Regions from separate parts of the Homo sapiens genome. Here region 1 is linked to region 2. The links come from fine-mapping of genetic effects on gene expression. A gene starts in region 2. The other region holds a variant in brackets. All regions are shown on one strand. Distances are from middle to middle.

Region 1 (4,392 bases), 78 kb after region 2:
TTCCTTTTGCACATAAAAAGTATAAAGTATAATATAGCTGGGCGCGGTGGCTCATGCCTGTAATCCCAGCACTTTGGGAGGCTGAGGCAGGTGGATCACGAGGTCAGGAGATTGAGACCATCCTGGCTAACATGGTGAAACCCCATTTCTACTAAAAAATACAAAAAATTAGCTGGGCATGGGGGCGGGCACCTGTAGTCCCAGCCACTTGGGAGGCTGAGGCAGGAGAATGGCGTGAACCTGGGAGGCGGAGCTTGCAATGAGCCAAGATCGCGCCACTGCACTCCAGCCTGGGTGACAGAGCGAGACTCCATCTCAAAAACAATAAATAAAAAATAATAATAACAATAATAAAGTATAATATAAACAGCCCTGTATTTAAGCTTATAGACTCACTACAATCGACTCAATGAGACTATTCAAATCTTGTTGTTCAGAAATCTACCTCTGTCAAATAATTGATTTGTTTTCAGAAATGCTTTACATAGGCCAGGCGCAGTGGTTCACGCCTGTAATCCCAGCACTTTCGGGGACCGAGGTTGGCAGATCACCTGAGGTCAGGAGTTTGAGACCAGCCTGACCAACAAGGTGAAACCCCGTCTCTACTAAAAATACAAAAATTAGCTGGGCATGGTGGTGCGCACCTGCAATCCCAGCTACTTGCAAAGTTGAGGCAGGAGAATCACTTGAACCCAGGAGGTGGAGGTTGCAGTGAGCCGAGATCGCACCACCGCATTCCAGCCTGGGTGGCAGAGTGAGACACTGTCTCAAAAAAAAAAAAAAAAGAAATGCTTTACATAGAGATTCGTATTGTCATGCCATATGTTGGTGTAGGATATGAACTATATCATAACAGGAACTGTCAATAGCAGCTTAGCAGGCAAACAAGCTCCACACAGCTAAAAACAATTTTATTTGTATTGATATAAAGTAGAAAAGGCAATATACATATGTGTTATCTACCCATGATGGCAAATGTCACCAACATAAATCTACCATAAAGACAGTAGTCTGGGCTGGGGAGGTGGATCACACCTGCATTCCCAGCACTTTGGGGGGCTAAGGTGGGCAGAACACTTGAGGTCAGGAGTTTGAGACCAGCCTGGGCAACATGGTGAAACCCAGTCTCTACTAAAAATGCAAATATTAGCCAGGCGTGGTGGCACACTCCTGTAGTCCCAGTTACTCGGGAGGCTGAGGCAGGAGAATCGCTTGAACTCAGGAGGTGGAGGCTGTAGTGAGCCGAGATAGCACCACTACACTCCAGCCTGTGCAACAGAGCGAGACTCCATCTCAAAATAATAATAATAATAATAATAACAATAATAAAGACGGTAGTCTGTTTTCATCTCTAATGAAATAATTGCTAGCAAACTTTTTTTTTTTTGAGACAGAGTCTTGTTCTGTCGCCCAGGCTAGAGTGCAGTGGCATGATCTCGGCTCACAACAATCTCTGCCTCCTGGGTTCAAGCAATTCTCGTGTCTCAGCCTTCCGAGTAGCTGGGATTAAAAGTGTGTGCCACCACGCCTGGCAAATTTTTATATTTTTAGTAGAGATGGGGTTTTGCTTTGTTGGCCAAACTGGTCTCGAACTCCTGAGTTCAAGTGATCCGCCCACCTTGGCCTCCCAAAGTGCTGGGATTACAGGTGTGAGCCACTGTGCCCGGTCACATTTTAATCATTACAACTTAAACAAATGTGGAATTTCAATTATGAAATACTCTTTAGTGACCATCAGATGAAAACCCTCCAATAACCAGTATTTTCATGAAAAGAGGATACAAGGGATACAGATCAGTTCAGAATAGGATTGTCCTGTTGCATCTCACCAGATTGATCAGTCTTCTCATTGCATGTTCATGAGAGCAAACACATTCACAGGGATCAAATCCACCTTCTGCCATGATTACCCAGCTTGATTTTACTTGACTGTTTAAATCTAGGAGGAAGGAAAAAATACTGTTAAGTCTACAATTCAGAATTACTCTTTCTCTTGAGCTATGAAAAATTCTGATATTGATTACATTCACAATAGTATTAAACTATGTATAGTTTGTATTTATTGACTTGTATCTATTAATTTATTATTAATCTTATATGAATTATGAATCTATACAGGTGATTGGCTACCCCTTCTGCCATCAGCCCATAAATACAAATGTCTTCAATGCTCTAAACTGGCCCCACCTGTGATGCTGAAGATGCTAGAACCTACTCTGCTTAATTACTCAATTATTTGACTTTATTAGCTCCAGTATGCAAATAATTTAAACCAGCCTTTACCCTCACCAAGAAAGACATCTGAAAAGGTATCTAAAATGATACCAAGGTTTATGGGGGGAAATTAATGACATAGCTAAAAAATAGCTAGGTAGATTTCAAAAAATAAAGAGAAACAAATGAGAGGTCAAGATGGAGTATTGGCAACCA[G/C]ATTTACTGTTCTGCCTAAAACAATTTTTTAAAAATTAGACAAAATACATGAAACAATTGTTTTTTGCTGTTGTTTTGTTTTGTTTTTAGACAGAGTCTCGCTCTGTCGCCCAGGCTGGAGTGCAGTGATACGATCTCAGCTCACTGCAACCTCCGCCTCCTGGGTTCAAGAGATTCTCCTGCCTCAGCTTCCGGAGTAGCTGGGATTACAGGCATGCACCACGCCCGGCTACTTTTCATATTTTTAGTAGAGATGGGGTTTTGCCATGTTGGCCAGGCTGGTCTTGAACTCCTGACCTCAGGTGATCTGCCCACCTCGGCCTCCCAAAGTGCTAGGATTACAAGTGTGAGCCACCGTGCCCGGCCAGAAACAATTGTTTTTAAGATATTAAGGCCAGGCGCACTGGCTTACTCCTGTAATCCCAGCACTTTGGGAGGCTGAGGCGGGAGGATCACTTGAGCCCAGGAGTTTGAGACCAGCCTGGGCAACCTAGTGAGACCTCACCTCTACAAATAATTTAAAAATTAGCTGGGCATGGTGGCACAAACCTGTGGTCCCAGCTACTCAGAAGGCTGAGGTGGGAGGATTGCTTGAGCCCTGGCAGTCAAGGCTGCAATAAGCCATGATCACGCCACTGCATTCCAGCCTGGGCAACACAGTGAGTTCATGTTTAAAAAAAAAAAAAAAGGGCTGAGTGTGGTGGCTCACACCTGTAATCCCAGCACTTTGGGAGGCCGAGGTGGGTGGATCACAAGGTCAGGAGATAGAGGCCATCCTGGCCAACATGGTGAAACCCCGTCTCTACTAAAAATACAAAAATTAGCCAAGCGTGGTGGCGTGTGCTTGTAGTCCCAGCTACTCAGGAGGCTGAGACAGGAGAATCGCTTGAATCCGGGAGGCAGATGTTGCAGTGAGCCAAGATCGCGCCACTGCACTCCAGCCTGGCGACAGAGCAAGACTCCGTCTCAAAAAAAAAAAAAAAAAAAGACATTGAACATGAGGCTACAAAGAATAGTGACACCTGAGAGACGGAAAAACAAATGAGATGAGCCCTATCACTGGCCCAGTTTACTGCCTCGAGGAGACTCTAGTTCCAAGTATGTGGTGGGAAAACCCAGACCAGAGCCCAGTGGTATCCCTAAGTTGGGGAGAAGAAACTAGAAGAATGACTATATTAAGGAGAGACATTAAAGATAGTAAAATCATCCAACTGGACTGGTAGAGATAAAAACAATAGTGTCCGAAATGAAAAATACACCAGATGGGTTTAACAGCATAGGAGACATTACAGAAGAAAAGATTACTGAACTTGAAGACATAATAACAGTAGCTATCAAAAATGAAATAATAGAAAAAGGGGTGGATAAACCAGTAGTCCCAGCCACTTGGGTGGTTGGGGCAGGAGGACCATTTGAGCCCAAGAGTTCAAGGCCAGCCTGAGCAACACAGTGAGAACCCATCTCTGAAAAAAATAAACAAAAACATACATAGGCCATTAGTGAGCTGTGGGACAACTTCAAATGGTCTAATATATGTGAATTGTGGACACATCCATCAAAACTTATCAAATTGTATATTTAAATGTGCATAGTTTATTGTTTATCAATTATATCTCAATAACGAGTAAAATTATGCTTATATACAGCATTAGCCATGGAAAACCATTCTGGTTAAAAGGTGGAATAGGCAGATCAATAAAACAATTCATAAATTAACTTAAAATTAAAAATTGAGTGATTAACATAAATTCACTCAAAAATATTTAGTGCTTATGCTAAGCCTATTAGAAATTTAAAAGTAGGCTGAGCATGGTGGCTCACACCTGTAATCCTAGTAGTTTGGGAGGCTGAGGCAAGAGGATCACTTGAGCTCAGGAGTTCAAGAATAGCCTGAGCAACATAGTGAGACCTCATCTCTGTAAAAATAAAAAAGAAATTTAAAGTAAGCAAAAACTGATAGTT
Region 2 (4,331 bases):
TCCCAAAGTGCTGGGATTACAGGCGTGAGCCACCACGCCCGGCCCCCATTTTCTATTTCTACTTTTATGTACCCTCTGGCCCTCTATTCTGCTGTCAGAGACATAGGAGTGTTTCCTTATTAAATGGGTTATTTTGAAATGAGTTTTTACCTCTGTATTTTGGGAGAGTCACAACAAACCAAACCGTTCCAAAACTACTCTTCATGTAAAATTTCATAAATTCAAATAAACATTCCAACCCAGAAGGGGTCACTAACAAATAACAAATGCCCTACTACAATCTAAACGGAATATAATCCTTCTAGCCCCAGCTCTCTACAGCATATTTTGCATAGGTACCCAGGAGCTAACGATGGGCATTATAGTTGGATACATCAGCTTCACACATTTTAATCATTTCCAGAAATTAAACAGTAAAAGATGCCTGACCAGAGAAAAATATTTAATCAGTAAGAAAGCCGGTATTAATTTTATGTCTAAGGGTTATCATGTAAAGCTGTGGAAGTAAACAAGAAGGAAGATGGATTATGCTTATCCAGTTATAGATTTTGTTAGAAAAAGGAGTACAGCAACGGGAGAAGAAATGAGATCTTTTCAATCAGGGTTGTCTACCCCTTACCTTAAACTGGATCCTGGCCACTAATAAGCACATCTCAGAGCAGACAGTCAGCTCTTTCATTTCCAGAACCCCCCTGAAGAAAGACTACTGTTCTCCATTTCTTAAGGGATTTGAAGAAACTCAAAGGCTCACTGTGTCTTTGAGGTCTGTCGATAGACAGCTACTGCTCTGTATGCCCATGAATAGATCCCTACCAGCGAACCCCTCTTTTCTCTATACTAGAATTCCTAACCCTACTAAGTTATCTTCCTATATATTTATAGGACGTATAATTTTTCAAGATCTCACACAAACATGGTCTCCCGAGGCACCCAGGAAAGGCCTTCCCCGACATCAAACAGAGCAATTCTGTGGTGTAGGGGGCCAACAATGGATTCCAGGACATCCCGGACAGATATCACGGCAGTCTTAGTATTTTGCTCTCAAGAGGGCTTTCTGGCTTCGTTTCTCTTTGGTTTCTTAAGAGGGGCGGCATGAGAAAAGCAGGAGCCCCTCAGGTGAGCAGACTCTTAAACACAAACAAAAGACTACGACTCTGCGGCCAAAATGAGGTCCCCAACGAGAGAACCGCTTCCTGTGGTGGGCGTTCGGCTTTGGAGGCGGCAGGGAAATCTCATCCAAGTCAGGAAAGTGGGTAAAGGCAGAAAGAGAAGGGGCTGGAAGACTCACGAGTCTTGAATAAGAAGCCCAGACGACCACATCCCCAGGACAGCAGTTCCAAAATGCGGTTCCCGCCCTAAGCCCCAAAGAGACGAAGGTCGTGAGACGGGAAGCCCGGGACCCAGCGCAGCGAGCGACCGGGAGCAGCGCGCACACCCCAGCCCCGCTCCCTCCACATCCCGCCCAGACCTGGGAGCATCCCGCCCGGGCGGCGGGGCCAGCCTGGGAGCGGCGCTTACCCACTTCCCAGCAGCAAGCGCAGGGACCGCTCCTATCCCGATCGTTCGGACAGCACCTTCCTACGGGCCGCGCCGCCGCAGCTTCTCCACCCGCGCCCCGCTCGATCTGAGCTCCCTCTCGGCGCACGCCCCTCCCTCAGGCTGCCACGCGTTACACTCTGAGTCCCGGGCCTGAGCCCGTATTTAAAGGCTTTTGCCTGCGAAGGCGGAGGCTTCATTCCCCCGCAGCCAGGCCCTCCTGGATTCTGCCCTCAGCTGCTTCCTAGCTCCCCCTCCCGCTACACAAGGCCCAGGGCCAGGTCCCTATTTCCTTCACGGCTCAGGGGCGGGGAGACTGGGGCTGGTCCTGGCTGGGAGGGCCTGCCCCGCCCCTGGCCTAGCTGGGCAAATCCGCTTTGGCCAGCTCAGCGGCTCCGCCCCTACCGCGAGCGGCGCTGGGCGGGGCTGCGTGCGTGGCGTGTCCGCTGGACCAGGGGACGGGGGCGCGCCGCAGGTGTAGGAGCTTTGCGCGCCTACCTGGCGGTCGTGGGTCGAGGAGGGGTCAAGAATTGTTGTCTAGCAGCCCTCTCCCCGCTGCCCTGTCCTGGCCGAGGCAAAGGCCGCGTGCGCTCCGCGTCTGCCAGGCTTTAGGGCTGCGCGGACACTGGGTGGGTGGTGGGCCGAGGCGACCGGAAGGTCCTGGCCGCCTTTCCGGTCTCCTCAGCACCCTGGAGCGCCGCCCTCGGGTTTCGGTCTCCTGGATCTGCGGGTCGGTCTCGGCGGGCGGATTACTCCTCGCCCACAACCTCGAGGCCCCGGGGTCAACCGCGCCCTCCGGGCCGGCAACCCAGGGTTTAGTCAGATTCCTCCTGACCCACCGCTTCTGGGAAAGAGGCGCCTCCCGTCAGGAGGATGCTGAGTTCCTCATGACTGGACCAGTGAGTGTCCACTCCCTGGTCCCTGGCGAGAGAGGCGGGACCCCCACGCCCTCCTGGCGCTCTTTGCAGAGATGTTCCTCAGGCCCAATCCGGGATTTGGGATGTCTGTGCGTGCTGTGGAGCAGAGAGTTTGCAACATGTAAGTGCCGTGCGTGAGGAAGAGTAAAATTAACCTATGGAGCCTGCTCATTTTTAATGTGGAGGGCAGTTCCGTTCCTTTCTTTCGCCGCTTCGAGGTCATTTTAACACTCAAATCTAACATATAAGAAAAAAAGCCAGGCATAATCATGGCCTTTTATTTCCCTCATTAAGGATTACATCAGGTGACATAAGCCATTTTAACATACATCATGAAGAAAGTGATTAGTAATTTATAAAGGCACATTAAAATACCATATAAATTACGGTTTTCTTGATAGGATCATGATGGTGACTTTAAGAAAGTGGTTGAATGTGGATGAAACAGTTTGCTGTGGATTGTAGCACGTGTGGCAGGATATGTAGGCTTGTTGGTTGGTTGTTTTGAGACGGAGTCTCCCTCTTGTCGCCGAGGCTGGAGTGCAGTGGTGCGATCTCGGCTCACCTCAACCTCCTCCTTCCAGATTCAAACGATTCTCCTGCCTCAGCCTCCCGAGTAGCTGGGATTACAGGCGCCCACAACCATGCCCGGCTAATTTTTATATTTTTAATAGAGACCGGGTTTTGCTATGTTGACCAGGCTGGTCTCAAACTCCTGACCTCAGGTGATCCGCCCGTCTCGGCCTCCCAAAGTGCTGGGATTACAGGTGTGAGCCACTGTGCCTGGCCAGTATATGTAGGCTTTCTGCATTCTATGCAGTTCAGTTCATTCATCCAACAAATATTTAATGCCTGTTGTGTGTCAGACGTTATCCTAAAGACTGAAGATGCAAAAGGGATTAAGACTCAATTCCTTTGGCCAGGCACGGTGGTTTACGCCTGTAATCCCAGCACTTTGGGAGGCCATAGCGGGCGGATCACCTGAGGTCAGGAGTTCCAGACCAGCCTGGCCAACATGGTGAAACCCCGGCTCCACTAAAAATACAAAAAGTTAGCCGGGTGAGGCGGTGGGCACCTGTAATCCCAGCTGCTCAGGAGGCTCCCTGTTGCAGTGAGCCGAGATCACACCACTGCCCTGCAGCCTGGGGAACAGAACGAGACACTGTCTCAGAAAAATAACCAAACAAAAAAGACTCATTTCCTTCTTGCAAAGCTCACAGGTTGGGTAGAAGAGATATGTAAACAAGTAATTGCACTAGATATGACAAGTACATCTTTTTGAACATACATAGATTTAAGTTATCTAATACAGTTTGCTTTGTAATAAAAACCACTTATCTTAGTCCCTTCATTTTGAATTCAACATTTTTCTATTTAGTATTCACCTCACATTCTTTTTTAGTATTTTGGTAGAATCAGACTCTTCAAAACGGTTAATAGGATTTCAGAAATTAAGTCAATTTTCAGTGCCAGCTAGAATGGACCTTTGGATTTAGGACAGAGGTTCTCCAAATGTGAGCTGGGGACTGTAGACAATCTCCGAGGTTCTTTCTGGGATCCATGAGGTCAAAAAGTTTTCATGTGTTACTTGCTTTTTTCACTCTTGTTCTCTCAGAAGTGTACAATGAAGTTTTGTGGAGACTATAATGTGCTATCAAAGCAAATAGAATTAAGCTGTTTTTTAAGTCAGATATTAGAGATTTACAAAAATGTAAAACAATGCCAATCTTATCTTTTGTTTTTAAAATATAGTAATTTTTCATTAAAATATGATATTTATGTTAACATGTAATGGGCTTATTGTCAATTTTAAGGAATTAATCTTTTATATATAATTTATCAGTTTTCATTTCTAATATGGTAAATACCAATAGTTAC

What was found. PIP is the estimated chance that this variant, and not a neighbour inherited with it, causes the effect. A credible set is the group of variants that fine-mapping cannot tell apart.
Region 1: its variant is the best candidate, but not a certain one, in a credible set for the expression of UGDH in whole blood (TOPMed, PIP 0.63).

The regions. Positions count from the first base shown.
Region 1 is chr4:39,603,242-39,607,633 of GRCh38, forward strand. It overlaps SMIM14 (small integral membrane protein 14), which reads right to left. Exons shown (of 5, transcript NM_174921.3): 2 at 1,830-1,939. The coding sequence starts at 1,904. Among named protein-coding and RNA genes, the nearest start is that of SMIM14, 33 kb to the right of the region's middle. The variant G/C (reference allele first, on the strand shown) is at 2,431.
Region 2 is chr4:39,525,765-39,530,095 of GRCh38, forward strand. It overlaps UGDH (UDP-glucose 6-dehydrogenase), which reads right to left and starts at 1,675. Exons shown (of 12, transcript NM_003359.4): 1 at 1,519-1,675. UGDH-AS1 (UGDH antisense RNA 1) reads left to right here and starts at 2,075. Exons shown (of 5, transcript NR_047679.1): 1 at 2,075-2,574. RefSeq lists silencers at 1,390-1,569, 1,820-2,119 and an enhancer at 2,500-2,559.